Homo sapiens: one gene and its partners. The protein of the gene in region 1 purifies or fractionates together with the protein of each later gene. This does not show direct contact. Each region holds a gene or a part of one and is shown on either strand. Other genes may lie near its edges. The genes, in order: MTA1, CHD3, ZNF512B and SIRT1.

Region 1 (7,039 bases):
GCATTGTCGGGACACATTTTTTGGTTGTCACGCCTTGGGGGATGCTATACGGCAGGTTAACACCGTATAATCACAGGTGACCCCCAGATAAGAATCACCTGGTAACACCGTATAATCACAGTGACCCCCAAGGTGGGCCTACCAGGACTCTGCCCACCGCCCAGGAGAGACCAGCCAAGACTCCTGCGAAGACTCAGGTGGCCCCTGCCCCCACCTGCCTCAGCCACACCCTCCCCAGGGGGACCTCCCCTCGCTGGCTGTCTGGGTGGCAGTGGCAAGAGGAAAGAGCTCCAAGCTCCTGGCCCACAACTCTGGACGCGTAGGGTGGGGGCGGCCACACACCAGGACACCTGGAAGTGACAGTCAGGACGCAATCCCCGCTTCCCCCCAGAACAGCCTGGGCCTAGAGGGAGGAGGGAAAATCGTCTCCGCCGCCCAGGCCAGCAGAGGTCATAGGTAGAGGAAACAGTGGCCCGGGACTGGCTGCGGCAGACCAGGCCGGGCTGGGCCTCACCTCCCGCTCCAGGTAGGACTTGAGCGACTCGGTCTCGTTGAGCAGGGTGACGCTGCACTTGCCCCTGGAAGAGAAGGACGGGCAGGCTGGAAAGGCGAGGGCAGCCCGAGGGGCCCAGGGCGGGAGCTGCTGGGGGCTACCTGATGTGCGTGGCGGGCAGAGACTCCAGCTGCCGGGAGAGGAACAGCTCCCGATGCCGCAGCTGGTGCTTTAGTTTCTCGGGCAGGTCCACCATTTCCGGGTTCTCCATTTCCTCTTCTATTTCCCCTGAAGGACAAGGAGCCCCTGTCAGCACCGCGGCAGACGCACACTGCCAGACCAAGGCCCACCCCACCAGCCCCACCTGGCGCCAGCACGCAGGAGGCCCAGTCCTGGGAGGCGTGCCTCCTCCTGCTGCCGGACACTGTCCCACTGCCCCACCCTATGGCGGCCCGGCGGCTCCTTGGCAGGTACCCCTGCAGACACTCTGGTGCCCACGTGCCCTTTAAGTCCAGGCACCCTAAAGGCCCAGACTCCCCAGGGCATGAAGATGGAAGGAGGAGGGAGAACAAGGTCCGGGCCAGCCCCAGAAGCAGCAGGCAAGAGCAAGAGGAGCGGGGGAGTCGGCGGCTGCCAAGAGCCCAGGCCAGGAGGGCGAGGGGCAGCCGCCCTCTGTCCGTCCCCATCTCGTGGCCAGACAGCCCCATACAGCCCACCACAGACCTCCCACACCAGCAGGTCACCCTCAGGCCGGGGCCGCACCAAGCCTGGGCCGTGGGCCGGACACAAGGGAGGGCCCCTCCTCAGCCGGGCCGGCCGGGCGCAGGGCACAGGCATGCAGGCGGCCCGCCCAAACTCTGTCCCTCAGCGGCGCTGCCGCCCCCAGCCCAGGGACACAGACAGGAGGACGCCCTCCTTGCGGAGGCCGGCTCTTACCTTCCTCGCCGTTGTCCGCCCCCGGTCCGGCCTTATAGCAGACTGACAGGGCTATATAACAGACAGACAGCACCCGGCAGCACGGTCAGCACAGGGTGGCGGCCTGCTCCCTGCCCAGGGCCCGGACCGAGGGCTGTGCCGCCAGGGGGCAGGGCAGAACGGGGGCCGCAGGCCTCCCGGTGGGGCGTGAAGACCACCCGGTTGAAGATCATCTGGGCCTCGACGTCCCCCCACTCTGGCTGCCCATCCACCCAGTGCCAAGCCTCTTTGGGAAGAGCCCAGACAAGCCTGGCTGTGGAGGGCCCCTGTCCAGAGGCCACCCCTGCCCCCACTCCACTGGGGCTTCCCAGAACAGGCTGTCCAGATGAGACCGGGGCCGGGCACCGGCCAGCAGCATGGGGATTCCTGCCCTGTGCTAGGAACCCAAGTAGGGTTCTTATAACACCCAAAATGGGGGCGTGCAGTGGTGCTCCCCACCGCCCCTCGCACGCTCAGCACCGGCCGCCAGTGGGCCACTCATCCCGCTCAGCGCCCTGCCGGCTCTCTGAGCCCAAGGTCCCCAGATGGGACCACAGCCAGCCGGGCTGCTCGCTCTCTGCGGCCCCCTTGTGGTGCCTGCAGGAAGTCCTGGCTCCTCTGGGCCCTCCCAGGCGCCAACAGCTAAGACTGAGGCTGGGAGCAGCCATGCTGGGCCTGTTCTGGGCCGGCCCTATCTGGGCCTCAAAAGCCTGGGGTGTCTGGCGGCTGAGCCTCACCTCCTCCCGGTCCATAGAACAGGGCAGGGCCGACCAGGACAGCCCCAGTCCTCTCATCCCAGGCCAACACATCTCACTCGCTCCCACTTCTGGGGACCCACGAGCAAACTGCACCCTGAACTCAGACATCACCAGGGCCCAGAGGCCCACACACCAGCCCCAGACCAGAGGCTGGCTTTTGTTCACGCCCGCCCTATGCCAGGCCCCATCCGAGCACTGACCCAGCCTGGACAGGAGCCCACAGCGGCTCCGAAACTCCCATTTCACCAGCGTCCCGGTCAGCAGAACAGGGCTCTGTGGTGCAGCCTGTCGGAGATGCGGGCGAGGTGGGCCTACAGCTCCTCAGAAGACCCTCAACAGGCAGAAACACCCAGGCAGGAGGTGGGGCTGGCTAGTGTACCCTGCACCCCTCACACTCTGAACCCTCCCTCAGACCCTGGATACACCCCTAAGCGTGAGGCCCAGGCTGTGCCCTCACTCCCACTCTTGGCTGTGGTCTCCAGGGCCCCCACGCCCTCCTCTGAGGAGGGACGTTCCCCTCTCCCTGTCATTCTGTCCTGAGAAAGGCTTCATGCTCACAGCCCTGCCGGGGGGAGGGCTTCTCTGCCACAGGGGCCACAGTGCAGCCTGGCGGGTGTCTACCCTCCACCCTGAGGCCTGCACTGTGGGCTGGACGCCCCAGCAGGGGCTGGGTGGAGGCAGTGACGTGGGAGAGCCAGAGGCCTCCCAGAGTGTCCTCACACCTGTCCCTGGGATCAGCTGGGGGCCTCACCCTGGCTGCCATGAGCTCACAGAGAAGCAGGAGAAACGGAGATTGACACAACCCCGGGGGGTGTGGGCCCTGCAGAATCACCGCAAGGCCCAGCCGCCAGGCAAGAGTGGGGCCGCGCTCTGAGTCCCTGGACCAGCGGCAGACCCATCACCCATGACGCCTGCTCCCTGCAGCTGGGCTCTCAGTTCATAGGAACGCCCTGCAGAGGGGCCGCCACGCAGCTTTCCAGGGAGCACCGTCCAAAGGGGCTGTGCTGTGTACCTGGGGGGGCCAGTGCTCGAGCTGGGACACTGCTCTCCACCCAGTCCTATCAGCCCCAACGAGGCCCTTCTGGAAAACCTGCCCTCTGATACCTCTAATCACGTTATGTCTGGAGTCCCCTTCTGGGGCTCTTCCAGCAAAAGGCCATCCTCTGGGGCGTCTGAGAGCAGAACCTCAGCCAAGGGGGCCACAGTACCCTCAAAAACCACTAAACCACTGATACAGGCTCTCTGGAGCAGGGACACTGTGCCCCCAGGTGCCAGAGGACAGAGACAGGATCCACCCTGGGCCAGCCATAAACATGCCCAACTCAACGGTGGCGCCTGACTCCCCAGGCCACACAGACTGGCAGGGCCACACTGCGGCCGCTCAGCCTGGGCACTGCTTCTCCAGCGGGCCAGCCCGCTCCCCACCACTGCTTCTCCAGCGAGCCAGGCCGCTCCCCACCACTGCTTCTCCAGCGGGCCAGCCCTGCAGAGTCGACATAGGCCAGCCTCCAACACTAAGAACCGCCAGCCGTGCTGCTGACTGGCACCCAGCACCTGCAGGGCCAAGGGCCACACCAAACACCCCTCCAGAATGTGTAGCCTGTGGACCTTCAACATCCCCAGCTCTCCTCCTTGGTGCCTGGAGCCCGCCGAGTGCAGCAGTGGAGTACACAGGCTTTGGGGTCAGAGGTCAAGGATCACCATGCCCCACCTTGAACGCTCCCCTCCTCTGAGCAGAGAGCTAGGAGGTCCAGTTCCTCACAAAGCCAGAGAAAGCCCATGGTCAACTGGCAGCTCCCTTTGGGCCAGCCACAGGCCCCACAGCCCAGTGTCCAGAGTGGACCCAGGCTCGGGGGCCCGGCCCAGCTGCACTGACCCAGGGCAGCTCACGTCCGCATCCACTGGTTGCTGAGGAAAGGTCCCAGCTGTCCGGTGGGCAAGGCAGTGGGGTTAAGGGACACCTTCCTTCCACAAGCGCCTGCCCTGGCCGACTCCCAGCAAAGGCTCAGGAACAAGGCATCGGTGGCAGGATGGTCTGTCCTGTCCCTAAGCCCCTCCCAGAGCAGGGGGAGGTTGCCTGGGCTGACTTCCTGCCCCTCACCCACAGCGCTGGGACGGGGCAGAAGATGCGAGGGTCCTCCCACCCGACCCACCGCAAACCCACAGTCCCTGGACCTCACCCCATTAGGGGTCGTGGGAGGTTACAGGTGGGACCTTGGCCCACCCCAGCGACACGGGTACCCGGGCAGTCACATGCCTCACCTACTGGGAAATGTCACCCTACAGACCACAGCCTCAGCCTGGGCTCAGATCCCACCCCAGGTGATGTGTCAGAGTGGAAGCCAAAAATGCCCCTCATGCCTGCCCCCACCGACACATGAAGGGCCTCAGTGGGGTACCACACTGTGTCTGGTGCAGGTGGGGCCCAGCTCGGCAGGCCCTGTGTCAGTAGCATGTGGAGGGCGTGGGGGTGCCTCTGGCTCCTGGCTCTGAAGTCAACATCCCCCGGCACAGGAGACTCCACCACCTGCGAGCACCTGTTCCCGGGGGAGAAGCTGGGTCCCCAAGGCTGAGGGCATTCCCATGCAGCCAGTGGCTTCCTCCCACACGCTGTGCTGGCCACAGCAGCCCCTCCCAGCCAGGTTACTAAACTTGGGTTTGAATCGTAAAGAATAAGGAGAGGACTGCTTTCCTGAAAACACTACTCAGAATCCCAACAGAAGCCTCTCCGCAAAATTAAAAAGAGAGAGACATTGGCAAGTGCAGGCAGCAGGGTCCCACCAGCCTGGAAAGTCTCCAGAAGTCATCATAGAAGGGAAAAAGAAGCCTCGATCAATGATGCCCACACCCAGCCACACCATGACAAGCTTGCAGAGGATGCCAGTGAGAGACAGACCACTCCGGGGGGCGTGCGAGGACTTCATTCACCCAGCCCCCGAGGAAACGGAGCCAGGACACCCCCGCCCACTGTGGAAGGGAGAAAAAGAGACGCCAGAGTGAGTTGGGCAGAGGGTGGCCCCACGAGGCCAGGATGCCGATGGGCCCTAGGGAAGAAGGACCCCGCCAGCCCTCCCCAGCCGACCCTCCCGCCAGGCGGGCACCCCAGGGAAGGCCGGACTCACTTGCGTGCTTGTCGGCCAGGGCGATGAGGGTGCTGGAGATGTCCCGCCTCCGGTAGAAGCACACCACTTTGGCCTCCACGTTCCCATTGGCCGTCTGTAACAGCAAGGCAGGGGCGTCTGAGAAACGCGACCAAACCCGGGCTGCACAGCTCCCAGGAGGGGCTCCAAGGCCGGACCCTGCCGTCCAGGGACTGCAGGTGTAACCACACCACCCCTCGGGACTCCAGGAGGGCACTTCACAAATGGAGCAAATCCTGCAGCTCTGGACGCCCGTGGCGTCTATCCCAGGGGAGAAGGCGGGCGTGTGCACCCAACCTCAACCTGTGTCTCCATTCTCCCTCCCTTCCAGACCCCAGTGTACCACCTGAGAACAGCAGGGTCCCAAGGAGGAAAAGGCCCCCGCCACACTGGGTAGGACCTCAGTCAGCTCCTGGGAGGCCACGCCCAGCTATCCCAGCCCCTCTGGGGTGACCTGCACAGCAGCCACGGCCCTAGCGGCGGACGCAGCCTGGACCCCCCGCATGGGACCAGCCCTCCCACCTGGCCTGGCTGACAAACGTCTCCAAGTCAAGACGGCTGTAAAACGCCACCAGAGAAGCACGTATGTTTTCTGAACGAGTTTTTATAACATCTTTGCTACTGCAAGAATTGTGCTGTAATTCTAATCACAGTGCAAGTGCCTAATGGAATACTATTTATAACTCTTTTTTTTTTTTTTTTTAAGATGGGGTCTCACTCTGTCGCCCAGGCTGGAGTGCAGTGTTGTGATCTTGGCTCACTGCAACCTCTGCCTCCTGGGTTCAAGTGATTCTCCTGCCTCAGCCTCCCAGGTAGCTGAGATTACAAGCGTGAGCCACCACGACCAGCTAATTTTTGTATTTTCAGTAGAGACAGGGTTTTGCCATGTTGGCCAGGCTGGTCTGGAACCCCTGACCTCAAGCAATCTGCCTGCCTCAGCCCCACAAAGTGCTGGGATTACAGGTGTAAACAGCACCCAGCCTCACCTAACTTTTTAATTTTTTGAGATAGGGTCTCACTCTGTTGCCCAGACTAGAATGCAGCAGTGTGATGTCAGGTCACTGCAGCCTCCATCTCCCAGGACCACAGTCCAATTACACCATGCCTGGCTTTTTTTTTGAGACAGAGTCTTGCTCTGTCGCCCAGGCTGGAGTGCAGTGGTGCAATCTCGGCTCACTGCAAGCTCCGCCTCCTGGGTTCACGCCATTCTCCTGCCTCAGCCTCCCGAGTAGCTGGGACTACAGGCGCCCACCACCACGCCCGGCTAATTTTTTTGTATTTTTTAGTAGAGACTGGGTTTCACCGTGTTAGCCAGGATGGCCTCGATCTCCTGACCTCGTGATCCGCCCGTCTTGGTCTCTCAAAGTGCTGGGGTTACAGGCGTGAGCCACCGCACCCGGCCTTTTTAGATGGAGTCTCACTCTGTCGCCCAGGCTGGAGGGCAGTGGTGCGATCTCAGCTCACTGCAACCTCCACCTCCCGGGTTCAAGCGATTCTCCTGCCTCAGCCTCCTGAGTAGCTGGAACTATAGGCACCCACCACCACACCGGCTCATTTTTGTATTTTTAGTAGAGACGGGGTTTTACCATGTTGGCCAGGATGGTCTCTATCTCCTGACCTCGTGACCCACCCGCCTCAGCCTCCCAAAGTGCTGGGATTACAGGCATGAGCCACCGCACCCAGCCAACCTGGCT
Region 2 (7,867 bases), on another chromosome or scaffold:
CTACAACCTTTGCCTCCCGGGTTCAAGCGATTCTCCTGCCTTAGCCTCCCGAGTAGCTGGGATTACAGGCATGTGCCACCACGCCCAGCTAATTTTTTTGTATTTAGTAGAGACGGGGTTTCACCATGTTGGATGGGCTGGTCCTGAACTCCTGACCTCAGGCGATCCACCTGCCTTGGCCTCCCAAAGTGCTTGGATTACAGGCATGAGCCACTGCACCTGGCCCATCTCTGCTATTTTCTACTCTACTATTCTCTACTTTTCTTCAGGAGCCACTGAAGCTCAGGTCCCACTGCCAGCAGTGGACCCTCCATTATTACCAGGGCCTAAGGAAGGGGCACAGGACCTGCTAAGTGAGCTAAGGAAGTTCAGGAACACTGATGGTATCTCTCAGGTCCAGTCTAGAGAGAAGTCACAGAGCAGAAGATGGAGCTGTTGGGGCAGGGGAGGGCTCACTATATTCTGTCCTCACTTTATTCTGTTGCTAAAGAGTTCTCTAACCCAGCACTGGAATCATGATGGCCCCTCCACCCCTCGCCCCTCAGTGAAGAGTTCTCAACTGGGGTTCTTGGATCCTTATGAGTCTAGGAGTTCCCTGAAATGACGTGTAGAATTTGGTGTGTATACACCGTGAATTCTCTGGAGAGCAGTTTCATAGCTTTCATCAGATTCCAAGGGGTCCAGGACCTCCCTCAAATTAAAAGTGTCAATTAGCGAGGATTCCCCAGTCTTACCGCACCTCATGAACTGGCTGAAGGCTTTGTAGTTGGTGAGCGTGTGGTAATCCTCCTCAGAGAACACATGCTCCACATCCTCCAGGCCCCAGGTCAGAAGCAGAGTTGCTGATGACTTCTGTTCCACTTGCTGCGGGAGAGGGGCTTTGGTGAAGTAGGTGCTCCTCCAGCCCCTATTCCAGGCCGCACACAGGCCTGTCTACCTACCCACTAGCTTCCCTGGGCTTTCTTGCTTCTTGCCCCATTCTCCAGTCCAGTCTCCATTCCTCCCCTCCTCATGCCCGTCTTTAATGCAGATTTCTCACTCTCATTCCCTAATTCTACTCACCTTTTGCCCCCCATCTCCCTCCCCCTTTTTCCGCCGCTTTGTCTTCTTCTCCTTTTTTTCTCGGTGCTTCCTTCTTCGTTTCCGACCCGGTCCGGTTCCATATTCACTGCCCCCACTCTCTGACTTCTCCCGGTACTCATCTCGCTCAGAACCAAATTCCTCCTCACTGTCCTAAGAGAAAGAAATAAAAATAACATTTATTCATCCCTACCATTGCCAGAAACTGTTCTCAGCACATACCATATCTTACCTCTTTTAATCTTCACAACAATCCTGTGATAGTAACTAATTTTTTATCTCCTTTTTTTTTTTGGAGATGGAGTCTTGCTCTGTCACCCATGCTGGAGTGCACTGACGTGATCTCGGCTCACTGCAACCTCCACCTCCCGGGTTCAAGCGATTCTCCTGCCTCAGCCTCCTGTGTAGCTGGGATTACAGACGTACCACCGCGCCCGGCTGATTTTTGTATTTTTAGTAGAGACGGAGTTTCACCACATTGGCCAGGCTTGTCGCGAACTCCTGACCTCAAATGATCTACCCGGCTCAGCCTCCCAAAGTGCTGGGATTACAGGCGTGAGCCACTGCAACCGGCCTTTATCTACTTTTTACAGATGAGGAAACTAAGGCACAGAGAGCCAAATAAACGGCCTGGTATCCTAGACAGAGGAATGCTGGACTCTTGAATTCATACAGTCTTCCAGAGCTTGTGCTTTCAACTGCTTCTCTTTGCTGCTGAGGACACACTGACAACGAGGCTCTTCACTAGGTTGCAGTGAATGAAGTTAGGGTCCCAGATCCCTGAGATACAGGCCAACAGTGGCAGGGAAGTGGGGGGCCCGGGGGATCAAGCCTCCCTGGCTTCAGAACCCCACCCCCACACCAGTAATCAGGACCAGAGAAAATGTAGGTCTCTGAGAATGGGTCTCTTGAGCCTTGCCACAGAGTTAGGAATTCTTGACACTTACACGCTTCTTGCGTTTTCGGGGTTTTCCTGGCTTGTTCTCCTTCTGCTTCTTGGGTCCTCGTTTTCTCTTCTTCACACCCAATGCTGACGGCAGCAGCCGAATGTCATCCTTATCTTTGAAGCAAAAAGCATCAGAAAACCTAAGCCTCTAGGTTTCCAGCCTCTGAGGCCCCTCAACTTGCCCCTTCCCCACCTCGGCAGTTCCCACTCTCTAGGAAGCATTAACTCCTCCAAGCCCTGCCTCCCTTCACTGGATGCAAACAGAAAGTGTTTCGAGTACTCTGGGATGCTCTGGTTCTGAATGGGAGGTCAGGGGTCAGAAGAGAAGAGCAGCCAAACCACTCCCCTCCCTCCCCTCCTACTAACAAGAGACCAGGCTCCAGGCCATGGGCTCTGACTGTGGCAGGTCCTTTCAGTCACCGCCAGGGCTCCTCCTGCCTTCCCCCTCACTTCGCCAGCTGGCATCCTGCCCAGGAACTGGGGAAGCCATGCCCAGCTGCTGGCCTGGCCTGACCCCAGCACTTGGAGTGGGGAGACACAAGCTGGCAGCTCCCTAAGCCAGATGCTGGGGAGGGAGAGCCAAAGGTGGACACCTGGGTTCTCACACTAACACCCTGGGGCCCTGACATCCTTTTGCCAAGAGGGAGGCCTCTATTTACATTTCCTCGGATAATTACCAGGCATCCTGTCACCCCAACACAGTCCTGGAGGAAAAGAAATCCTCAGCTGGTCATTTTTACTTCTTGCCCACAGGATCACAGTGTCTGCCGCCTTCATCACACAGGAGAAAGTCTCCACAATTACCTAAATATTCCTCCTCCCAAGTAGCCTAAAACCTACCTTCAATTCTATTCCCATCTCCCTGCTCCCTTTGGGAACTAGGGGGCCATACCCTTTGTTTCCCGATCTCACCCTTCACCTCCATATTTTGTTCCAGATATCCTGACCCATTCATCTATACGCAGTATGGGAGACCCAAACAAAGATATAGGCACAGACAGACACACCCAGCATATGCCTTCTCAAAAGCACGCGCGCGCACGCGCGCACCCACACCCACACACACTCTCAGGCCCACAAATCCAGAGGATGGCCTGTACCTGCTTCAGCAGGGATAGGTCCCTGGCTTTCTCCCCAGATGTCTCTGCCAGAGGACCCCAGGCCCCCCACCCCATTATCTGTGAAGGTGTCACTCTGTGAAGGCTTGGGGAACGGAACGGAGAGTTACCCCACATAAAGGAAGACAGGATGCCCCACAGACCTGGGGCCCTGGGGCTCTGGTTCACGTCCCTCCCCTACCAAGCACTAGACTAACCAGCCAGACCTGTCTAGTACAGAGAGAGGCAGCCGATGCAAGATGGGAAAGCCTGGGCTTGGCCCAGCCCCTAGCTCTAGGACACACAATCCTTTCTCCTTCCCTCAACAGCCAACGGAAAATTAGCCACAATTAACACCAGAGGCCTCCGTTTCCACTGCCTCAGAGTCGCTGCCTCGCCTTCCTTCAGTGCCACCTTTCCTGCTAACTCCAGCATCCTGTGTCCCCTTGTGCAGGAAGACACTCTAGGACTGTGTGCGTGTGTGCAGGGGGGTGGCTGCCAGAGCCCGGGTGTGAAACGGAATGGGGACTGTAATAGGAAGTCAGCAAGGAAGGCGCCATGCCCCAGCAGCCGGCTCCCCCTGGCCCCAGGGACTTCGGTTGACTTGAACATGGAAACGCAGGCTGCCGAGGCAGTGGCAAGGGCAGGCCAACTGGCTAAGGTTCAGGGACACGGCCTCGGCCACCACCAGCCAGGGGTGGTGCACAAGCCGGTTCACTCTACTCCCCACCCCAGCGGGAGGTTCCCGAACTTGGGCAGGCGTCGGTGGCGGGAGAGGCAAAGCGAGAACGGCAAGGAAAAGCAAGGAAGGGTAATAAAGCAAATCTAAGTCCCAACCTCGGTCTCAGCAGCCACTCAATGCTGGCCTGGAGCCCAGACTCTCCCACATCCCCGGCTCGGATCTCAGGGAGGCAGGGAGGAGAGAGGCGGGGGCCGGAGGGCGCAGGGCGGAGCCTGGCCGCCCGAGCAAGCGGGAGGAGTCTCGGCCGAAGCCTCGCCTCCCGCCCGCCCCTCTCTTCTTCTAATCTCACCATCAATCTCTCACACATATATTTATTTTTTCTCAAATTCCCCTCCCTCCCCCACAACGCACCACCATAATAGGTCTGCTGCACATGCGTACTGCAGGCAGGGGGTGGGTTTGTATTTTCAGACCTTTTGCAAAGAAACTACCAGAATTTTCCGCACCACCCACAATCATTCCCCACCCCCACCCCCAAGGAATCACATCTATATATTATGTTATATTATTTCTCTCGACTTGCCAGAAGGGGGAGGGAGAAGAAATGAGTTTTTGGCTTCCTGCTCCCTTCCCCCACCAACACGACTGCTATTATTTTAAACGTTTAACAATGTAAGGAGACTGGAGAGAGGGGGAAGGGATAAAATTGGTCTTGAGTAAGAATGTAAAACAAAATGGTGAGAATCAAAGCAGTCGGAATGGAAAACAATGGAAATCTCTCCTGTGCACAAATGCATACTCTAGACAAGGAAGAGCGAGGGCAGCCTGAACAAATTTCCTTAGAGGAGGGTTCTTTTCCCCACACTTAGGTAGACAGAAATAATGAGTGTGCTAAAAATAATTTCCCGAAGTTTTACCTCCGAAAGTCATCTGAGGGGGTGTATCTGGGTCACTCATTCGACTTGGAGGGCTGAAAGGGAGATAAAAATTGCCCAGGGGGAGAGGGGAGGTGGGTTTTCATTTCAGTTGTAAAATGTAAGCAGCCTCTGACGTCTCTTCTGGTCTATTCAGAAAGCCAAGAGGGAAAGGGGAGGCCGGGTTGACACAAAGACCCATCTCAACCTCGGATCCTTTCACGCTTCTCTCCCCAACGTACCCAGATCCGGGACCCACACCACCCCACCCCAGACTCCAAGTCCCAATACAAATAGGTGAGCGCTGCCAAGCCCCTGGCAGGACCTGACGGCCTTTCTTTCCCTCTTTTCAGCGCCTCTGCCGGAGGCAACCCCAAAGGCACCCTCTCCCCACAACTCCTCATTCCTCCTCCTCCTGCCAAGGCAGGGGGCTCTCTGGGAGAACTTTTTCAAAACTTTACCCTTTTTCAGACAAGCTTGGGGGGCGGGGAGACTTTATCCAGTTTCCAGGAGACACACATCCCTCCCCGACCCACAAGAAAGCACCCCCCGCTCCCCCAAAGGTCGTCTCGGCTAGACAGGAACGTTTGCCACAGAAGCCACACGGATCAATATGACAGTTTTACAAAGAGCCCGGAGTTGGCCGTTTTGAAGTTTGGTGCATTTGTGCCGCATGGCAGCCAGAGGCCCGGGGGTGCGGAGGTCCCCCTGCTGTTCCCCAAGCAGGGGGTGTGGACACCCAGATGCTCACCTATCCCAAAGAAGACTAGAAATCACTCCACTAGGAGGGTGGTCTGAGGGGGACACCGCTGGGCGCCTGACGCGGCGCAGCGGTCTGGAGAGCGCCGCCCAGAGAGTGCCGCCGGGTGACTTGTCACCTCGGGGGACGGGTGCTGAGTGATGGTCAAGCTGCAGAACAGCTGGGTGGGCAGTTCACGCCCCCCAACGTGCTCAGGGAGTGGGTGGTTTCAGCGAGAGAGTGAGTGACAGTGAATGGCAGCCACGTGAGAGTCACAGCTGGGCAGCTTGGCCACCCCAGACTGACGGGGTCAAGAGGGGGACCCCCCCCACCGCACTTGACACAAAAGAGCCCAGAGCCCCGGCGAGATGAAGGGGGTGGAGCCGGGGGTATCTGGTTCCCCAGACACTCTTCTCTCCGCTCCCCAATCCGAATGGACTGCTGTCCCTGCACAGGCTGGGGGAGCGAGGGGACGAGCTCCTGCCTTATTCCAGGAAGTGGTCTGCGTGGACTGTGGCCACCACCTGCCCCTACTCATCAGCAGCCCACAAACATTCACAAGACCCCTCCCTCGCGTGCCACCGCATGCCCCTCAGTTGGCGGGCACCTAAGTCTCCGCGGGTGGAGGGGGGTCCGATGGACACCGTCCCCACTCTGCCTGTCCAAGTCCTGAGCGGAGGGGGCAGGCCCGTCGGCTGCTCCGTGCGGGGAAACCCCACTCTCCCTCGGTCCAACCCCACCGGGGCCAGAGCCCGAGGGGCGCTCGCGCGGCCGCCCCTCCCCCACGTGCCCCTCCCCCACGCCGCCGTCCGGCCGCCAGGGTCTCGGCGGTCCCTCGCTCGGCCAGGGAGGGGGCCCTGGCTTCGCCTTGGCCGTTTCCTGCCTACCCCCTCCCCGCCGAGGGTAAAAAAAAAACCTCCTCCTCCTCCTCCCCCGAAAGCCGCGACCGAGTGGCCCGGTCCGCGCGCGCAGCTCGCGCCCAGCGCTCTCCAGCCGGGGTGGCGGCGGCGGCGGCGGCGGCGGCGGCGGCGGCGGCGGGGGAGGGGTGCGGCGGGGGAGGGGAGGAGGCCTGGCCCCGCGGTCGCAGCCGCCACCGCCCGCCCCGACCTCCCGGACCGCCGCGGGGCCACGGGCCCGAGCCCCGGATTCGCGCTCCGGATTCGCCTCGGCTCGGCCGCGCGGTGGGTGCCTCGCCCCCGCCCGGCTTCGCGCGCCCGCGGCTCCCACTCGGGCTTGGGGGGGGAGTCGGGGCGGGCGCTTACCTGGCGGCGGGGGCGGCGGCGGCGGGGGCAGCGGTGGCGGCGGCGGCGGCGGCGGCGGGAAGAGGTGGCAGCCGGGGGGGCTGTGGCGGTCGCGGCCCCGGTCGTGGCCCGGCCCGCGCCCGAGTACTCCCTCGTCGTCGTCCTCCTCATCGTCCTCGTCGGCCGCCTCCACCTCCTCCTCCTCCTCCTCGTCGCCCTCTTCTTCCTCCTCTTCTTCCTCCTCCGACACCACCATCTCCTCCTCCTCCTCCTCCTCGTCCCTCAGAGGGGAAGCCATCCTGTGGCTCTGGCCCCCCCACCACCCCCCCACCCACCGCCCGCCCGCCTCCCCCACCGCTACCACCACCACCTCCTCCTCCTCCTCCTCCTCCTCCTCCTCCTCCTCCTCGGCGGCGGCGTCCTCCTCCTCCTCACCGCCTCCCCCAGCCCCCCAAACCCCCGGGCCACCCCCCTCCGAAACCCCCACCCTCGGGGCCGCCGTCTGAGGAGGGGGGCCAAACCACCCCCAAAAATTGTCTTGGAAAAAATTGAGGAAAGACTTTTTTTCCTTCTCTCTTTCCTCCCAAGAGAACAAGAAAGGGGGATTTAAAATATATATATATATACATATATATATATATATATATGTATATATATAAAAGTTTTCGACTTCTCTCTGCCCCCCTCTCCGTTGCTTTAAATATATTTAAATTCTGAGGGGGGCGCTCAGAAATATTTCTCAGAGCTGAGGCACTAAGATGGCCGCCTTGAAATTATTTTTAAAACAACCCCCCCTCCAGCACCGCCACCCCCTCCATAAAGAAAGGGAGAGGGGGGAAAATCCCCTTTTCAAACAAAATGGCTGGCTTAATATTTCATTTTTCACCCCCCCATTCTCCTCCCTGTTACACCCCCATCTCCAAGCCTTTACCCAGAAACCCACAAATTTCTCCTTTTTCATAACTGATTAGTGCACAGATTAATAGAGATATTTTCCTTGTGTACTGAAGTGTGTGTGTGTGTGTGTGTGTGTTGGGGGGGCATGAAGGATTTCTGCATAAAACAAAAATGGCTGCTGTGACTAACTCCCCCCTTATAAAAAATATTTGAGGGGGGGCATTAATCAGTACTCATGCTCAGTCTGACATCAGCATAAATTGTTAAAGGT
Region 3 (3,766 bases), on another chromosome or scaffold:
CACCGGCCGGAAGGTGGGAGTCAGCAAGGCGCCTGAAAAGTGAGCATGGTGCGTGGGGCCTGGCCCCCATGCAGCCGCCACACCGCCCTCTGTTCAAGGCAGGGCCAGCTCCGGGACCTCTGTCCTCCAGTTCTCCATCCCCCACCCCCGCCTCTTCATCCGTCCAGTGGGGCAGCCAGCCACTCTCCCTTCCCTGAAGGTGGCCCTTCCCCTGTTAAGGCTGCCACAGGGCACACCTGGGTTGGGGCTCCCCAAGGTGTGCCCAGCAGAAGTGCAATAGCCAGGAGGGTTGCCCCTCCTCATGGGAATGTGTCTGGGGTCTTGGTGCCACAGGGGCTGCAGCGCAGAGTAGGCAGATGGCCTTTGGCCCCCCGGCTCCGCTTCCTCAGGCCCTGCCGGGTCCCTTCCCTGGCTACCCCAAGGCTCAGGCATCCCTGGTGACCTGTGGTTCTGGGCTGGTGAGGGCACCTGAGCAACCTGGCACGGGCAGCCACCATCCTGGCCTCACCTCCACCCAACACTGGAACTCCAGCACCCCCAGCTACCTCCCAGGACAGACCCCTGTCTGACCACTGCCATGCTGACCTGACAGGCTCCGGCCTGCCCTTGGCCACCCACTTGGTCCCCTTGCTTCTGTTTTCTACCTCTCCAGGCCTGCCCACTACCCCCACCCCTGCTCCTCCTTTGTCAGTGCGATCCCTGCTGTGCTCAGGCCCTGCCCCCCAGGCCTGTCTGTAATTCTCCCAGCTTGGGGCAAGGGAGGGGTTTTGCTTCTTGTACCTACAGGGCAGCAGAAGCTTGATGCCCTTCAACACAGCTGCCAGCCCTGGGGGTGTGGGGCCCCTGGAGTGTGCTCTCCTCCAGTGTTCAGCCTTCTGGCACTGCAGGCCTAGGTTGGAGCAGCCTCGTGGAGTAGGGACGGACTAGTTCGGGCCCTGGGGTCTTGCTGGGGCCCATAGGCATGTGGGGCAGGAAGCTGGGCAGAGCTGGCCTGGCTCTGAGTGGCCACTGGGGGAAAGGCAGCCTTCTGTCTGCCAATCTGGGTAGGCCCAGTGGCCAAGCTCTCATGGGAGCCCCCTCCCCACTTTTTTTTTTAACCTGCCCCCATTGTTTCTGGTTGTGTGGTCATTTGATATGGGAACTGAAGGCCAGCCAGGGGAGGGGCTTGGCCAAAGTCACAGCAGGTTGATGGCAGCTCCAGAGCTGTCTTTGCCCCTTTGTGGCCCTGAGGACGGCTGGGTCTATAGGTAGGGCAGGGGTCAGGCAGGGAGTCCAGGGTGCCTGGAAGAGGTGGCCACAGCCTGTGGCTCCCTCCCTGGGGTCCTGCCTTCCAACCACGGCATTGCAGGGAGGATGAGGCTCAGAGGGGGTAGGTTTGGAGGGAGGCCATTTTCCAGGGTGGGTGGGAGTGGGCTGAGGGCTCGGCCCCACTGACCCTGGACGATGAGAATTTTGATGTTTGCCCGTGTGCGTGTGTCTCCTGGGTGTAGTGGATGCCAGTCTTGTTGCTGTGACAAGTAACAACCTTTTTTTTAAATTGTTTTTTATACAAACACTCGCAATCCGACATTTGGTGCTAAGGGTTTCCTGGTGCAGACGGTGGGCCTGGGGGCTGGGCTGGACCAGGGCGTGGGTCTCTGGGGTTGGGGTCCCTTGCTGCTCAGGGAGGCAGTACTGACTGGGCACTGCCTCTGCCCCCAGCACCCACCCTCCCCCATTCCCCAGGGAGAAGGGGCCCCACTGGGCTTGGCCTGCAGTAGTAGGGAGACAAGTTCCAGGAGCACTTTGGGGACTGGGGTTGCAGAACACTTCCTGTCTCTGGCTTCATCCTTGGGCCAGAAGGCTCCAACCCTCAGCAGCCCTTGCCAGATGTGCCAGGGAGTGGGTGTGGAGACCCGGACTCCCCCCACCCACGCACACCTCGGCCTGATGAGAGGATGGAGGCTGGGGCAGAGATGGGCGTGACCCAGCGTCAGAGGGTCGGGGGAGGCATTCCTTCCTGTGTCCCAGAGCTTCACTGGTGGAGCTGGAGGAGCCGGAGGTGGAGGGTGGGGTCTGGCAGCTGCTGCTGGGGCAGCCTCATGAGGGGAGGGGAGGGGAGGGGAGGGGAGCAGGCACTGGGCGGGGGCCTAGGTGCACTTTGTCCTTGCCACCAATGGCGGGAGGAGGGTGGACCTGAACACCTGCAGGGTGTGGTGCCTGCCCCAGCCTCTCAGGTACTTGGCCCTTGGGGAGAAGAGAAGAGGGTCTGGTTTTTGCTGGGGGTGAGTTTCCGGGACACTCCCAAAGCCCACAGATAATCCCTGGTGTGGGAAGAGGAGTCCTGGATACCTTGATGTTTAGCACTTTAACCCCCTTTGTCTTTAAGGTAGGCGTGGGGGCTACTGCCAGAAGTGGCTGTTGGGTCTGACCCCCTCCTTTCTGCCCTCCCTCTGCCACATGCTGGTCCGCAGAGCCCTCCTCCCAAGGGGTGGGGCCCTGGGTGGAGCTCAGCAGGGTCTGCCCACTCCCTACGCTGGCCCACATAGGCCTCCAGGAGCCCTCAGTGAGAGGGACCAGCATAGCTGACCCCCAGAGTGTGGTGGGCGCCGGCCCTGCCCGAGGCCCAGTCGGGGCCCTTTCTGCAGATCTACCTCTGGCTCAGCGCACGCCCCCTGCCCTGAGAACAGGAAAGGGCCCGGAAGGGCTGACTCACCGGGCCGACGCTCACACGAAAATGGGATGCACTTTATTTGCTGGTGCAAAGGCAGGTGAGGGTGCCTCCTGTGTGACCGTTGGCCCTCCTGCCTGGTGGCGCTGAAGGGAAGGAGCCAGTGAGCCTGACCCCGGGAGGGGCCGTCCCCGTGTGCCGCGTTTGGCGGGGCCCCAGGCGGCTCCCCCAGGCCCGGGTCTGGGGCCCCAGGCTTTCCCCTGCCTCGCGGCCGGGCGTCCCGTGCTTTGGGTTTCTTGGTTTGGGTTTTTTAATGCCAGTTCTCAGTACATAAGTGCATTTTGAAAGAGGTTCCAGCTATCACTTGTAACCATATATATATACATATATATTCTATCTACAAAGTGTTTATTTGCGAGATGTTTCAACGGTGAGTTCGGGCCCCGCCCGCCTTGTGACCATCTGTCCCCGGTCCTCGTCCCCGCCCCGCGCCCTGGTCCCGAGTGGCGTGGGGACGGGCCATCACTGTATGTATTAAAATGACTGTATCAAATAAATGTTTATTGATTTTTTTCCAGGGTTTTTGTGCGGCTCAGTTTGTGGTGAAAAACAGGGGGCGGGGCCCTCCAGGCACGTGGCGGAGGCTGCCGAACTACGGGTCCCCCATGCCCGCCGCGCGGCCTTGTGGGGCTTGTAGTCCGCGACGCGCGGCCTTGTGGGGCTTGTAGTCCGCGACGCGCGGCCTTGTGGGGCTTGTAGTCCGCGACGCGCGGCCTTGTGGGGCTTGTAGTCCGCGACGCGCGGCCTTGTGGGGCTTGTAGTCCGCGGTGGGCAAGAGAGGGACCCGCCAGCTCCCGGCGGCCCATGCGCGCCGCCCGGCCAGGCCCGCAAAGAGGCCTCCGAGCGCCATGGCTGCGCCCCCGGCCCGCGCGGACGCTGATCCTTCGCCCACGTCGCCACCTACGGCCCGAGACACACCAGGCCGGCAGGCTGAGAAAAGCGAGACCGCGTGCGAGGACCGGTAGGCGTGGGCCTCGCCTCCACTCCACTGGCGAGCGGGAAGGGGCTGCAGATCCGGCCGAGCTGGGCGGGTGGTCCGTCCCCGCCGCGAGCCCA
Region 4 (6,899 bases), on another chromosome or scaffold:
ACGGTGAGCCGAGATCGCGCCATTGCACTCCAGCCTCCGCAACAAGAGCGAAACTCTGTCTCAAAACAAACAAACCAAAAACCGTACATTTACTCTCTAAAATTAACAGCTCTGAGCCATACCTATCCGTGGCCTTGGAGTCCAGTCACTAGAGCTTGCATGTGAGGCTCTATCCTCCTCATCACTTTCACAGGAATGAAAACCATTAGTGATAATTTCATCACCGAACAGAAGGTTATCTGCAAAAGAAACCAAGTCAGTCAAGGCTATCAAAACAACATGCACCTAAAATGTATGAACGGTTATAGAGCAATCATTTTCATCGAGTACAGCATTTAACATTTACACGGCGTGTGTAAAGCATGCCTATGGGGTCAGCTTGCACTGTTCATTGGAACAGTTTCTTCATCTTTAGGAATTCTGCTCACTCAGTTTCAGCCAAAATCTAAAAATAAATTAAGTCTACTTAAAAAACAGAAAAGATAGCCGGGAGCGGTGGCTCACGCCTCTAATTCCAGAGCTTTGGGAGGCCGAGGCAGGCGGATCACCTGAGGTTGAGAATTCGAGACCAGCCTGACCAACATGGAGAAATCTCGTCTCTACTAATAATACAAAAATTAGCCGGGCATGGTGGCGCATGCCTGTAATCCCAACTACTCAGGAGGCTGAGGCACGAGAATGGCTTGAACCCGGGAAGCGGAGGTTGCGGTGAGCCGAGATCACGCCATTGCACTCCAGCTTGGGTAACAAGAGCGAAACTCCACCTTTTAAAAAAAAAGAAAAGGAAAAAAAAAAAGAAAAGATAATAATCTAGCTAGAATGTATCATACAATCACAAACAATAGCGTTCGTGAAACGTGTAATAAATGGACATTTACATAAAAACGTCATTCAAATATAACCTTGGCAATGCGCACGTTAAACTTACACAATACTACAAGTACCTCTGCATTGTTTCCTCTATTAAATAAACAGTATTAATAACACAATTATTATTAGGTAAATAATAAATTAGTACTCAACTGTGTTGCTTGAAATCAGGGTCTCTTTACTAAATCAGTCCCTAAAAACACATATTACTTTTTTTTTTTTTTTTTTTTGAGACGGGGTCTCACTCTGTTGCCCACCCTGGAGTGCAGTGGCAGGATCACAGCTCACTGCAACCTCGAACTCTAGTACCTGGGACTAAAGGTGTGCGACACCACGTCCCGCTTTTTTTACTTTTAGTAGAGAGGAGGTCTCGCTATGTTGCCCAGGCTGGCCTGAAACTCCTAGGCTCAAGAGATCCTCCCGCTTTGGCCTCCCAAAGTGCTAGGATTACACGAAAGAGCCACCGCGCCCGGCCTGACCCAAATATTGATAAAGATGAACACCTATCAAGGATAGAAACTCCTCAGATCAAAAATAAGAAACCTGACCGGGCGCGGTGGCTCACGCCTGTAATCCCAGCACTTTGGGCGGCCGAGGCGGACGGATCACGAAGTCAAGAAATCAAGACCATCCTGGCCAACATGGTGAAACCCCGTCTCTGCTAAAAACACAAAAATTAGCTGGGCGTGGTGGCGGGTGTCTGTAGTCCCAGCTACTCGGCAGGCTGAAGGAGAATCGGTTGAACGCGGGAGGCGGAGGTTGCACTGAGCCGAGATCGCGCCACTGCACTCCAGCCTAGCGACAGAGCGAGACTCCGTCTCAAAAAAAAAAAAAAAAAAAAAAAGAAACCTTCAAGAACATGACAACTGCAACATATCTGCTTCATTATGCTAGAAGTGTTAAGTTTGTGTCTCAATACTACATACATACAAAAAAAGCATGTTTAGCCCAAACACCATTACCGCACAAGAGCAAGATTAGAATAAAAGTAATATGAACAGCTCTAAAAGTACTCTCTCTCCCATACCCACTCCTAACTGCATTACAGAATGGTAATGTCTTCAGGAACAGCCACGTTCTTTAAATTTTGCAAGCTGTGACTATAGAAACAGCTTTCCTCTTTCAAAAATTGTAATTTCAGTCATAAAAATATAGACCAAAAAAAGCAAACTGCACAGGTGTCAAGTTTGCAAAAAGCAATTGAAAACGCAGACCAACGGGACAGCCAAAAAGTTGCAGACTTAAGTGTGCTGGGGGGTAGAGGAGAAAAGCAATGAAAATAAAAAATAAAGAAAAAGAAAAAAAAAGCTCTAACAAAAGCAATATGCTAAAAGAGTAAGAGGGGGAGAGAAACTTATTTTAAAGCGACTGCGAGAGTCTCCCGACCTGGCTGCTGCGGAAAGAACAAGGCCGCCCAGGCGGGCCACGGACGGAGGAAAAGAGCGAATCCACTGGCAGCTCGCGCAGTAGGAACCGCAGCCCCGGAGGAGCGCGGCTGAACGGAGGGCCGGGGTGGGGAGGGGAACGCCGCGGAGCCTGCCCCGAGCCCCCAGCCGCCCTCAACCTCAGGCCAGTAGGAGCCCGGGGAGAGGGAGGAGGAGATGCGCAGTTCCGGCCGCCCGCACCCTGCGCACCTCGGTACCCAATCGCCGCCGCCGCCGCCTCTTCCTCCTCCTCGCCCTCGTCGTCGTCGTCTTCGTCGTACAAGTTGTCGGCCAGCGGTGGCTCCCGAGATGGGCCCTGCAGGCCCGGCCCATTGTCTCCTTCCCCAGCCGCCGCAGTCGCCTGGGCCTCTTGCTCCCCGCCTGCCGCCGCCGCCTCTGCCTCCGCCTCCCGCCACAGCGCCGCCGCCGCCGCACCCGGGCAGCCCCTGGCCGCCGCCGGCACCTCACGCTCTGGGGCCGCCCCACCGGGCTCGCCCGGGCTCCGCTCGAGGCCGGGACCATCTCTCCGCGGCCTCTTGCGGAGCGGCTCCCCGGCGGGGGACGACGCGGCCTCCCTGTCGGCCCCCGCCGCCGAGGGGGAGCCGCCGGGCTGAAGGGCGAGGGCCGCCTCGTCCGCCATCTTCCAACTGCCTCTCTGGCCCTCCTCCCTCGCCTCCTCTGCTCCCGCTCGACGCGCGGCACTGGCGCCCCCGCGGCTCCGGCTGCGGGAGATTTAAACCCCATCACGTGACCCGCCCCATCGCCGCCCCCGCCCTCTCGGCGCTCCCGCCACCCACGCGGGCCAGACCACAACACTACGGGTCACGTGGCGGGCGGAGGCTGTTGCGTCTACCGCTCCGCCTGGGCTGGAAGCGCACTCGGCCCCGGCGGCCGGCGGCCCTTCCTCTTTGTGGCGAGCGTGTAGTGCAGCCAAATTCGCCCCTCGGCCGCTTTCTCAACTTCTCTTTCAAACTGACCTCAAATCACTACCGCCGGAACAGCTCAAGTTTTGGTCCGCCCTGGGAATTTCCACGTCTTCCTGAAGTGTACACCTGGCCTGCCTTAGCCTTGTCTATATTTAGCTAAGGGTTAAAACACAGCTGAAGCTGGCTAAGACTTAGCTCCCTGAAATACGTTGGATAGTCGTTCTGTTTTGTTAATAAGTAGGAAGAGAGGCAAAAGGAGGCGGCTCCTTTCCCACTCTCCTCACACCGTTCTGACAGCTCCTCTTTTGCTCCTTTTTCTGCTCCTTGCTTTTCTCCTTAGTCGGTTGCTTTTTTCCCCTCTCTCCCATCACTTGTAGGGTGGTATACATTGTAAAATCCTTGAAGGCATATGTCCTCCTGGGAAGACCTTTGACGTGGAGGTTTGGAGATCAGCCGATCTACTTTCTGGCCCCAGCTTGGCTTCAAACGTGTGTGAATTCCCTCCTCCGGGCCTCAGTTTTCTCACGTGCAGAATGGGTTTGTTGGGTCAGTATGAGAGCATGGGAAGGAAATGACTTGGCCTCCATGCACATCTGCCCTTGGTTAAAATTTGGAGTCCTTCCTTTCTAGCGTGAGCTATCTAGCCGTTTCTAAACTTAATTTTTCTCATGTCTTAAATGGTAATAAGTATTTTAAAACGTCATAGATTTAAATGAGATAACCAGATGTAAAACGAGGGGTACCTAGTAGTTCAAAAGGCTTAGTGGAAAGCCCTTCCACTTTCCTCTCTCCCTGAAATTCTGGCACACTGTGACTCCATATCTAATCTTAACTAAGGACCCATATAACCCATGGTAGATCTAGAGCCAGTGTTTGTTATGGCATCTGCCTGGAGCACAGCGTTTCTATCTGTTTAAAGGACCTCTACGAGTTTATGGTACACTGTCCCTTAAGCCTAGTATGGGTTCTGGCCATACTGCATCAATTACCTGCGTGACTTTAGGCAACCAACTTAAAGCTGTTTCTTCATCCTTAAAATAAAAAATAAAAAGCTGGAAATATATCGCTAAGGTCCTATCTACATCCAAAAGTCTTATTTCATCTGGTCACCACTATTCATTTCTGAAAGTAATCATCTCCAGTCCTAGAAGCCTTAAAACCATCTTTGGTTGCGTGGGGGTCAAGGGGAGGGAGAGCATTAGGACAAATAGCTAATGCATGCGGGACTTAAAACCTGGCTGGGCGCGGTGGCTGCTGCCTGTAATCCCAGCACTTTGGGAGGCCGAGGCGGACAGATCACCTGAAGTCGGAAGTTCGAGACCAGCCTGACCAACATGGAGAAACCCCGTCTCTACTAAAAATACAAAATTAGCCGGGCGTGGTGGCACATGCCTGTAATCCCAGCTACTCAGAAGGCTGAGGCAGGAGAATCGCTTGAACCCAGCAGGCAGAGGTTGCGGTGAGCCGAGATCGCACCATTGCACACCAGCCTGGGCAGCAAGAGCGAAACTCCGTCTCAAAAAAAAATATAAATAAAACCTAGATGAGGGGTTGATTGGTGCAGCAAACCACCATGGCTCACCTATAAGTATGTAACAAACCTACACATTCTGCACCTGTATCCTGGAACTTAAATTAAAAAAAAAATCTTTGAAGCGTTCCTTCATACCAATCCCTCTGAAATCCATCTGACCAATCAATGACCAAATCCTGTTGTCCTTCCTTTCTTGCTACACTCCTCCCAATTCCTGACTAGGCACCACACTCCTAGTGGTTGACATACTTGGTCCTCCCCACTTTCTGTCTTACACTACAAAATATTTCATAAATTGACTCTCAGCTACGTTGGTGGAATGCAATATATGAAATGTTGAGAGTCAGTATCCCAATAAAACAGAAACAAAATTCCCAGCTTTTTTGAGAAAAAGATGTCTGTAAGCTTATGAGCATCCTGTTGTTCATTAATTCATTTATATTTATAGTATATTATTGACACGTGAAGTTTATGAACTACAAGAAATGCTATGTGATCAATATTATTGTTAGTATGCTGAGAGGTCAGAGATGCAGTATGCTTTTCAGGTAGGATAAATGAGAAACAGAAATTGTATTACAACAAACACAAAAACAAAAAATCCCAATTAGACTTCTGGTCTACCACTGGTTAAGAACTAACATTAAGGCTAGGCGCTGTGGCTCACGCCTATAAATCCCAGCACTTTGGGAGGCCAAGGCGGGCGGATCACCTGATGTCAGGAGTTCGAGACCAGCCTGACCAGTATGATGTAACCCCGTCTCCACTAAAAATACAAAAATTAGCCCAGAGTGGTGGCATGCGCCTGTAATCCCAGCTACTCGGGAGGCTGAGACGGGAGAATCGCTTGAACTCAGGAGGTGGAGGTTGCAGTGACCTGAGACAGTGCCATTGCACTCCAGCCTGGGCAACAAGAGTGAAACTCTGTCTCAAAAAAAAAAAAAAAAAAAAAAGAACATTAATATTCTGGCTGACTTAGTAGTTCTATTCTCCTAAGTTAATAAATTGGCCTGCCAAGCACGGTGGCTGACGCCTGTAATCCCAGCACTTTGGGAGGTCGAGGCGGGTGGATCACGAGGTCAGGAGATCAAGACCATCCTGGCTAACACGGTGAAACCCCGTGTCTACTAAAAATACAAAAAATTAGCCGGGTGTGGTGGCGGGCGCCTGTAGTCCCAGCTACTCGGGAGGTTGAGGCAGGAGAATGGCGTGAACCCAGGAGGCGGAGCTTGCAGTGAGCCGGGATCGCGCCACTGCACTCTGGCCTGGGCGACAGAGTGAGACTCCATCGCAAAAAAAATAAAAATAAGAATAAATAAAAAATGAATAAATAAAAAAATAAATTGGCCTAATAGCTCTGATATCAGTCTCATGTGACTACAATTAGTAAGGGAGTTAGTATCAACTCTTTTGTACTAATAAAATGTTATTGTCAAAACTGAAAAACACAAATGGAAATCCCTACTTCACACAATATACGAAAATAAATTCCAGCCAGGCGCGGTGGCTCACTCCTGTAATCCCAGCACTTTGGGAGGCTGAGGGGGGGCAGATCACCTGAAGTCGGGAGTTCAAGACCAGCCTGGCCAACATGGACAAACTACTACTGACTCTACTAAAAAATAAATTAGCCAGGTGTGGTGGCACATTCCTGTAATCCCAACTACTTGGGAGGCTGAGGGAGGAGAATTGCTTGAACCTGGGAGGCGGAGATTGCAGTGAGCCGAGATTGCACCATTGCACTCCAGCCAGGGCAACAAGAGCAAAACTTCATCTCAAAAATATAAAAAATTAAAAATTCCAGATGGATTGAAGATCTAAATGAAAAAATACAAAAATAAAAATATGACATTTTAGAATATTTATAACTTTGGATCAAGAAAGAACTTTTTAGCAAGGCAGGAGCCATTTTTTAAATGATAAAAATATTTGACAATATAAAAATTTAAAATATGCTCAAACCTATTAGTAGTCAGGGATACGTAGTGAAAAAATGTCCTAGCCAAGTACAATGGCTCATACCTATAATCCCAGCACTTTAGGAAGCTGAGGTGGAAGGATGGCTTGAGACCAAGAATTTGAGATCAGCCTGGGCCACACAGTGAGACCTCATCTCTCCAAAACCTTTAAAAATTAGTCCAGCAT

Evidence for each region.
Region 2: the proteins of MTA1 (region 1) and CHD3 purify together in Homo sapiens (affinity purification with western blotting; 7 studies listed by BioGRID and IntAct, with this or other methods). This does not show direct contact.
Region 3: the proteins of MTA1 (region 1) and ZNF512B purify together in Homo sapiens (affinity purification with mass spectrometry; 4 studies listed by BioGRID and IntAct, with this or other methods). This does not show direct contact.
Region 4: the proteins of MTA1 (region 1) and SIRT1 purify together in Homo sapiens (affinity purification with mass spectrometry; 4 studies listed by BioGRID and IntAct, with this or other methods). This does not show direct contact.

The regions. Positions count from the first base shown.
Region 1 is NC_000014.9:105,443,800-105,450,838, reverse strand, and holds part of MTA1 (metastasis-associated protein MTA1), read right to left. Parts: intron 5,422-7,039; coding exon 5,328-5,421; intron 1,481-5,327; coding exon 1,430-1,480; intron 782-1,429; coding exon 655-781; intron 579-654; coding exon 515-578; intron 1-514. UniProt on the Homo sapiens protein: Transcriptional coregulator which can act as both a transcriptional corepressor and coactivator. Acts as a component of the histone deacetylase NuRD complex which participates in the remodeling of chromatin.
Region 2 is NC_000017.11:7,883,937-7,891,803, reverse strand, and holds the start of CHD3 (chromodomain-helicase-DNA-binding protein 3), read right to left. Parts: upstream 3,016-7,867; 5' UTR 2,982-3,015; coding exon of another isoform or gene 2,939-2,981; 5' UTR 2,804-2,938; coding exon 2,704-2,803; intron 2,141-2,703; coding exon 2,028-2,140; intron 1,234-2,027; coding exon 1,063-1,233; intron 865-1,062; coding exon 740-864; intron 1-739.
Region 3 is NC_000020.11:63,956,165-63,959,930, reverse strand, and holds the end of ZNF512B (zinc finger protein 512B), read left to right. Parts: coding exon 1-43; 3' UTR 44-3,227; downstream 3,228-3,766. Other genes in the region: UCKL1 (uridine-cytidine kinase-like 1), read left to right, coding at 3,559-3,671. UniProt on the Homo sapiens protein: Involved in transcriptional regulation by repressing gene expression. Associates with the nucleosome remodeling and histone deacetylase (NuRD) complex, which promotes transcriptional repression by histone deacetylation and nucleosome remodeling.
Region 4 is NC_000010.11:67,880,757-67,887,655, reverse strand, and holds the start of SIRT1 (NAD-dependent protein deacetylase sirtuin-1), read right to left. Parts: upstream 3,001-6,899; 5' UTR 2,935-3,000; coding exon 2,505-2,934; intron 2,476-2,504; exon of another isoform or gene 2,257-2,475; intron 240-2,256; coding exon 123-239; intron 1-122. UniProt on the Homo sapiens protein: NAD-dependent protein deacetylase that links transcriptional regulation directly to intracellular energetics and participates in the coordination of several separated cellular functions such as cell cycle, response to DNA damage, metabolism, apoptosis and autophagy.